2 linked regions of the Homo sapiens genome follow. The protein of the gene in region 2 interacts with the protein of the main gene of each other region in a pairwise test. Each region holds a gene or a part of one and is shown on either strand. Other genes may lie near its edges. The genes, in order: HDAC5 and RUNX3.

What was found.
Region 1: the proteins of RUNX3 (region 2) and HDAC5 interact in binary tests that used the Homo sapiens proteins (3 or more experiments, as listed by UniProt).

The regions. Positions count from the first base shown.
Region 1 is NC_000017.11:44,082,027-44,085,832, forward strand, and holds part of HDAC5 (histone deacetylase 5), read right to left. Parts: intron 3,130-3,806; coding exon 2,996-3,129; intron 2,650-2,995; coding exon 2,529-2,649; intron 1,829-2,528; coding exon 1,779-1,828; intron 1,627-1,778; coding exon 1,519-1,626; intron 795-1,518; coding exon 739-794; intron 647-738; coding exon 559-646; intron 1-558. UniProt on the Homo sapiens protein: Responsible for the deacetylation of lysine residues on the N-terminal part of the core histones (H2A, H2B, H3 and H4).
Region 2 is NC_000001.11:24,909,777-24,913,582, forward strand, and holds part of RUNX3 (runt-related transcription factor 3), read right to left. Parts: intron 1-3,806. UniProt on the Homo sapiens protein: Forms the heterodimeric complex core-binding factor (CBF) with CBFB.

The sequences.
Region 1 (3,806 bases), on a different chromosome or scaffold from region 2:
ACCATTAGGAGCAGGGTTTGGGAAGCACCCATGGTAGCAAGAGCAGAGTGCTGGGGCCAAAAGCCTTGGTCTGAAACCCAGTGCCGACATCCCCAGCTGAGTGGCCTTGGGTAAGTCACGCAACAACACCTTTGTTCACAGAAATGGACATCCTCGTTCTTACTACTCGAGGTGGCCATAAAGTACTCATTGTGTTCCTGGTATACAGTCTGCTCCTAATTGTAGGGGGTGGGAGGAAATATCGGCTACTAGCAATGGCGGCAGCGTCACTACCGTTCAAGGTAGGAAATCCCCTTCGTTGCTTGAAACTGCAACGTGAGGGCCAAGATGGAACAGGAGCTAAATGTCTTTCATAGTTGAGGAGGGAGCCCTGTTGGAATGTGACGTTAGTCATCCGGCAGGAGCCCCAGCGCCCTTCCTTCTGCACCCACACCCAGCACCCGAGGATGAGGACGACTGGGGTGCTTGAAGGTGGGGCTGGGGGAGGAGACTTCCTGAAGGCTGACCCTGGTCCTAGCTCTACCCGCCCCTGCCCAGCCCCACCAGCTCACTGCCTACCCAGTCCACGATGAGGACCTTGCCCACGTTCAACTTCTGCTGTAGGAGTTTTGCGGTGATGGCTACAGAGTTGAAGAAGCAGAATCCCCTGAGGAGGGGAGAAAAGGGCAGGAGGTCAGCCTCAGCATGACGTTTGCAAGAGACAGGAAGGGGCGAGGGCAGAGAATCTAGGGCACTCACATGGCTGTGGATTCCTCGGCGTGGTGTCCTGGGGGCCGGATGATGGCAAATCCATTCTGAAGAGGTGCAGGCAGAGGTGAGGGGCAAGATCCAGGCAGGAAGGCCGTGGAGGGGGTAGCACAGGACAGAAGCACAAGCCAGGCAGGGAAGTGAACACAAACCAGAAAAGCAGATCCATATGTTTAATGCACAATTTTGTTGGGGTTTCTTTGTTTTTTTATGGGTTTTTTTGGAGACAGAGTCTTGCTTTGTCACCCAGGCTGGAGTGCAGTGGCGCGATCATGGCTCACTACAACCTTGGCCTCCCAGGCTCAGACAATCCTTCCACCTCAGTCTCCTGAATAGCTAGGACTACAAGCACACGCCACCACACCTGGTTAATTTTTTGTAGAGACAGCGTTTTACTATGTTGCCCAGGCTGGTCTCGAACTCCTGGGCTCAAGCTATCTGCCCACCTCGGCCTCCCAAAGTGTTGAGATTACAGGTATGAGCCACTGTGCCCAGCCTCAACGGACCATTTTGAATGCCAACCATGAGGCTTGAGCAGGCAGACACTATTTCTGCCTCGAGACACCCACGAGAGCACTGGGCATTAGTGTCTTTTTGTTGGTCCCTCATAACCTGAATTCCCAGCTGGCAACTCCTTCCCACCCTGGTGCCTGAGAGTTGAGCTTGCAAAGGACAGTGCCTCACTGAAAGGATCCCAAGGCTGCCCCTGTCCTCTGCCTCTGAGGAGCAGGGCCATGCCAAGGGGCACCGAGGTCACAAGCACACGCTCACCTTGAGCTCTCCTGCAGCCACCTTGAAGGCCAGCTCCAGCAGGCAGCCCACTGCCATGCGCACAGCACTGGAGGAGTGCATCTCATTCCACACGGTGTCACTGTCCACCTGCAGGGCAGGAGAGCAGGTTTCAGTGTGCCCCCTGCAGGGCAAGAACAGGGGAGGGCACCTGGACAGTGGGCCAGCGGCTGTGGTAGGCAGGGAAGAGACAGACCTAGGAGAGCCGCCCGCCCACCCCCACTGCTGTACGCCCTACTCACCCCGATGCCCCCACAAGGCAGCACAGCATACATCTTCTGGCTGATGGGGCCTGCATGGAAGAGGAATAGAGCTACTCTAGAAGTGGCCTCGGGCGGATCACCTGAGGTCAGGAGTTCGAGACCAGCCTGGACAACATGATGAAACCCCATCTCTACTAAAAATACAAAACTTAGCTGGGCGTGGTGGCACACACCTGTAAACCCAGCTACTCAATAGGCTCAGGCAAGAGAGTTGCTTGAGCCTGGGGAGACAGAGGTCGCAGTGAGCTGAGATCGCACCACTGTACTCCAGCCTGGCCAACAGAGCAAGACTGTCTCAAAAAAAAAAAAGGCACCTCAACTGCCACAGGGCTACAGGCTTAGCCACCAAAAATGAGGGCTCAGACCCAAGTACAAGACAGGCCTCTGCAGCCCACACCAGTTGGAAGCTGTCAGTCCTCTGTCCTTGGGGACGTCTTACCTCTGGGGGCAGGTGGCAGGGAGAGAGGAGCATGATAAGCCGTGGAGGAGGGGAACAAAGCAGTCCCCCCAACCGAGCACTTCCATCCTCCTGCACCGCGCCCCACAGCATGCTCTATTTTAGTGGCGCCCTCTGGAGGTGTGTGACGTGATAATTGTGCCACCTCTGCCGCAGCAATGCCCTATGCCCGTGGGGACAACCCTCCTAGCCTGGTCAGGCAGTCTTCCTGAGAGCCCCCATCCCACCCTGACACTGAACATGCCTGCCCGCCCACCCATGTGCCAGCTCACCGAGCAACTTCTTGCTGTCTAGCTTCTGCCGGTTGAGGGGACTGGTCCCATAGAGCAGGGTGTGGTATTCAGAGTGCACTGTCTGGATCTCATCTAGCGTGGCTTTGCGACCTCGGATCCGCTGCCAGGAGGATCAGTAAGAGGGGTCACACAAAGGCACAGCTCTCTCAGAGCCTCTCTGCCCCATAGCCAGGGCACACAGAGCCACTTCCTGGCCTCAGGAGATCCAAATATTTTCAGAAAGTAGATCCTGGCTCTGTCATGACCTTACTCCCGGATCCCCCCCACTCAGCTGGGGACCATGGGGGAAAACAGGCTGCAAGGGATGGAACGGGGTGGTGGGAGAACTGGCCCCGAAGTCTGGGGCTGAAGAGAGGATGAGGAAGAAGCATGAAGAGAGGCTTATCTAACAGGGAAACAAAGGCTGGATTTAAGTTGAGAGCCAGAAGAAGGAGGGGCTCCCTTACCTCGCACTTGCTAAGCAGGCCTGTCTCCTGCAGCCGGGACCAGATGCTCTGGATCCGGCCAGCATGCTCAGGGTGCACGTGTGTGTTCCCGCACATGCACTGGTGCTTTAGCATGAACGTGTCGTAGACCACACCTGGGCCACAGACCTATGTGTCAGCCAGCACTGCTCTGGGCCCAGGATCCCAGCCTGGCTACCATGATCCTCAGCAGGGCTCATGGAGCTGTCTCCAACCCCCAGGTCCAAACACCTCCCCATGGCCACTGCAGCCACCCTGCCACAAACCTGCCCCCTCTCCTCTCCAGCTTTTTTTTTTTTTTCTTTGAAACAGGGTCTCACTCTGTCACCCAGGCTGGAGTGGAGTGTGTAGTGGTGCTATCATGGCTCACTGCAGCCTCAACCACTGCCCCCACCACCCTGGGCTCAAGCGATCCTCCCACCTCAGCGTTCTGAGTAGCTGGGACTATAGGCACTACCACACCTAGCTTTTCTTTTGTTTTTTTTTGAGACAGAGTCTCGCTCTGTCGGCCAGGTCCAGTGGCACGATCTCGGCTCACTGCAACCTCTGCCTCCTGGGCTCAAGCAATTCTCCTGCCTCAGCCTCCCGAGTAGCTGGGATTACAGGCATGTGCCACCACGCCTGGCTAATTTTTGTATTTTTAGTAGAGACGGGGTTTTACCATGTTGGCCAGGCTGGTCTCGAACTCCTGACCTCAGGTAATCCACCCACCTCAGCCTCCTAAAGTGCTGGGATTACAGGCGTGAGCCACTGCACCCAACCTATTTTTTTATTTTTTATTTTAAAGAGACGG
Region 2 (3,806 bases):
CCCTTGGAGGACTGTGCACTCCAGGGTTCGGCTGATCAACCCTAACACGGTCACGGCCATTCTACCTCACGTGACTTGGTGGGAGGCTGCCAGTCAGGCAGGGTGGCCAGGCCCTCTTTTACAAGTAAGAGAACTGCAACTGCGGAGAGGCGAGGAAGCTTGTTGGAGGCCACACGCCGAACAAGGGGTGGGATTTCCTGGACCTGGGACCCTTTAGAAAAGATGGAGGCTAGGCATGGTGGCTACGCCTGTAATCCCAGCGCTTTGGGAAGCCGAGGCGGGCGGATCACCTGAGTGAGGTCAGGAGTTTGAAACCAGCCTGACCAATATGGTGAAACCCCGTCTCTACTAAAAGTACAAAAATTAGCCGGGCGTGGTGGCGGGCGCCTATGATCCCAACTACTTGGGAGGCTGAGGCAGGAGAATCGCTTGAACCCGGGAGGCGGAGGTTGCAGTGAGCCAAGATCACACCACTGCACTCCAGCCTAGGTGACAGAGCAAGATTCCATCTCAAAAAAAAAAAAAAAAAAAAATGTGGGAGGGGGTAAGGGGGAGGAGAAGGTTTGCCTAAGGCCTTGGGTCTAGAATGACATGTGCGTTTTCTAGTTTGGCAGAGGGAGAAGAGGCAAGATGTAGGTGGGAGGTAAAACAGAACTCACTGCGCTTCTTGGGGCCTGAACAAGTGATTGCTGGGGACTCGAAAAGTGGGAAAAGCCTGTCGACCACTGTAGGGCATGAGGGGACAGAGCCCGAGGCCTCGCATGGGCCTGATTTCTGATTTTCAGAATGGGAACGCAATGGATTCTGGTACTTGTAGGCCCCCAAGCTCCCTACGCATCCCTGTTGGAAGCTCAAACAGGTATCTGGGAGCCTCAGAAAGAAAGCAGGGGGCCTGGGAGCCACAGGGGCTCAGCCAGTCACCAAGAACCAGGGAGCCCCACCTTCTCCTCCAATGAGGCCCCAGACCAGGAATCCATGGGACACTTGGTGGCAGGAATAAGACCATTTGGTCTCTGGCCAGGCCCCCACTGCTGCCTCCCAGGGCCCTTGGCAACAAAGGGGAAAACATGGGCTGGGGGCGAGTTTAGCTGGAGCTGGGGCTGCAAACTCAGATGCCCATGGGGATGGGGCAAGTCACGTGAACGAGGCAAGTGGGATGGGTGGGGCCTGGAGCGGATGGGGAGGAGATGCCTTGTGGAAAGCACCTGACTGCTACCCTGAGGAGGGCAGGCCCAGTACGGCCAGAGCTTCCAATTCCAGACCGAGTCCTCAGCCCTAACAGGCCTTGGAGGAAATGTTGTCCTTGCTCCTGAGGCCACTGGAAATGGCAGGGAGATGTGGATGAGCTGGGGGACAAGTGAGCAGAAGAATCTTAACAGGCATGAAGCCTGCCGGGTGGACGTGGGGACCACAGACTGATCCGACAACAGCCTGAGTGCAAAGGATCTGGGTGTTTTAGTCAGCCACAAGCTTGAAGGGAGCCAATAGGGCTGGTGCAAAACCTCAGGCCTTGTTACTTTCGTCACAGGAGAATAAAGTCCCCTGTTTCTGAGTCACACCATGTACAAAGAGTGTTTACAGTTACTCCTGCGGCCTGGCGGAAGAGGGCGGGGTTGACAGCCAGCCTGGGTTCGAGGACGGGTCCTGTCACTTGCAGTCTGGTGGCCTCACTCAAGTCACACTCCTTTCCCCCACCCCGAGCTGCGGTGTCCCCATCACACTGTCTTTGTGGGTTGAGGTGCTGGCCTAAGGTGTGGACACTTTCCAGTCACGTGGGTCACCACCATCATGACCATCGCTTTTATCTCTGCTCATGCCCAAAGGAAGCAGAACTATCATCCCCATGCTGGAGACCGGGGTGTGGAGGCCAGGATGCTGAAGTCGTGTGAGGAACACAGAGCCTGAGCAGCAAGGCAGGATTCACACCCGGATCCCCCGACTCCAAGCCCAGGGCTCTTTTCCTGACACTTTCCCTTTTGTTCCCATTGTTTAGACGGGGCCACCGAGGCTTCACCATGAGACCGACGCTGAGCGCCTGTTCCGGGACCCAGGCTGTGGGTCAGGTAATCTGACCCCGGAACCCACGCTCCCACCACATGCTCCCTTGCCCTCCGTAGGGCAGACTTCCCGGAGGAGGGGAGTCCAACAGCACTTCGGAAATAGCTTCCTTGTTACTGTGGAACGCTGGAGCCACTGCCAGGGAGGGGAGAGGGGAGCCAAGGCGGCCCCACGTGGCCAGGGCGCCAGAGAGTCTCAGAGCCACAGGGCCAGGGCTCTCACACTGGGAATAGGACAGAAGTTCCAGTGCCTGAGGAAAGAAGATGGTCTTCAGAAAAAGCCTCTTTCATTCGGTTACCCAGAGCAAGAGCTGCGTGGGGAGCTCTGGCTCTAACCCACTCCGTCACCTTGGGCCCAGTCCTGCTACGCCTCAGTTTCCCCTCTGCACAGTCTGCTCACTGAGGCCCCTTCCTTTTGAAAGTCCCTGATTTAAGGTAGCAAAGATCAGCCGCTGGTCAGAGGGGCCCCAGAAAGAAAAGAAGGCAGGGCTGCTGGCCCCAGGGCCCACCCACTACCACTTCTTCCTGCTGCTGCTGTTCCCAGTATTTCTTGAATATTCTCTGCCCCCCACTCTTCAGAGCCTCAGCTCAGGACAGCCTCTGCCAGCAATGCTTTCTGTCCTGTGAAGCCCAGTCCAGGAGCCCCTCCTCCAGGAAGCCCCCCTTCTCCCACAGTAGATCCCCATCACACCTCTGCAGGCTAGGGCTGTCCTTTAAAGCAGTCGCCAGCAGGAGTGGAAATCATCAAAACGGCAGCAGATGCTTGCTGGGTGCTTCCTCCACGGCAGCGTCTAAGCAGCTGACAAGCACCATCTTGTTTCGCCTGGCAGCATCCCCTTGAGTAATGTCTGCCACCATCCTATCATATGGGTGAAAAAACTGAGGCTCTGGACAGCCAGTGAGCTCAAGGTCAAGCAGAAGACACACAGCCACCTGCTCTCCCTAGAGCCTGTGAAAACACATCTATTGTGGCGGAAGAGGGCGGGGTTCACAGCCAGCCTGGGTTCGATACATCAATAGATGTATCGGGACTCCACAATAGATGTTAGGGCCCCGTCCAGCCCCAGGCCCAGAGCTGCTATCTGCAGGCCCAGGAGGATAGGACTTGGGAGAGGAAGATGAGAAGGTCTCAGTGGACTCCACCAGGGGCCCTTCCCTGCTCTGAAGCTCAGGGTTGAGAGTGCAATTTCCAATCATACCCTGCTCTAGACCACCAAGTCACTCTCTGCCTCTGGGCCACAGTTTCCACATCTGTAAAGTGGTTATCATACTGTCTAACCCCTGAGGGTGCCGATGAGCTGGAGGACAGGCCACATGCTTTTAAAAGCAGAGGACTGAGATGGCTGGGGAAAGCCCCGCGTTGGCCCTCAGGGCCTGTCCTGGCTGCTGTCAGCCTCCAGCTGCTGGGCTCAGATCAGACAGCTCCTCCAGCATGGCCTGGATTAGTGTCTATGACCCTCACTTATGGGAGGGCAGATCCCAGCCTGCCCCTCCCAAGGGCCCAGTGGCCCCAAGCTCATACCAGGCAGCTCTCACCCACCAGTGGTCACTGTCTTGGGCAAGCCACTCTTGCCTTCTGGGCCTCAGCTGTCTTATCTGCAAAATGGGGATCACACCTCTAACCCCCGAGGGTCAGGAAAGGTTTCAAGAATTACACAGCCCACCAGGCCTTGGCCTTTGAGGAAGGTGTTCTGGGTTCCCATTCTGACTTGGCCATCTGCTCCTAGGCAAACAGCTCCTCTCTGATGC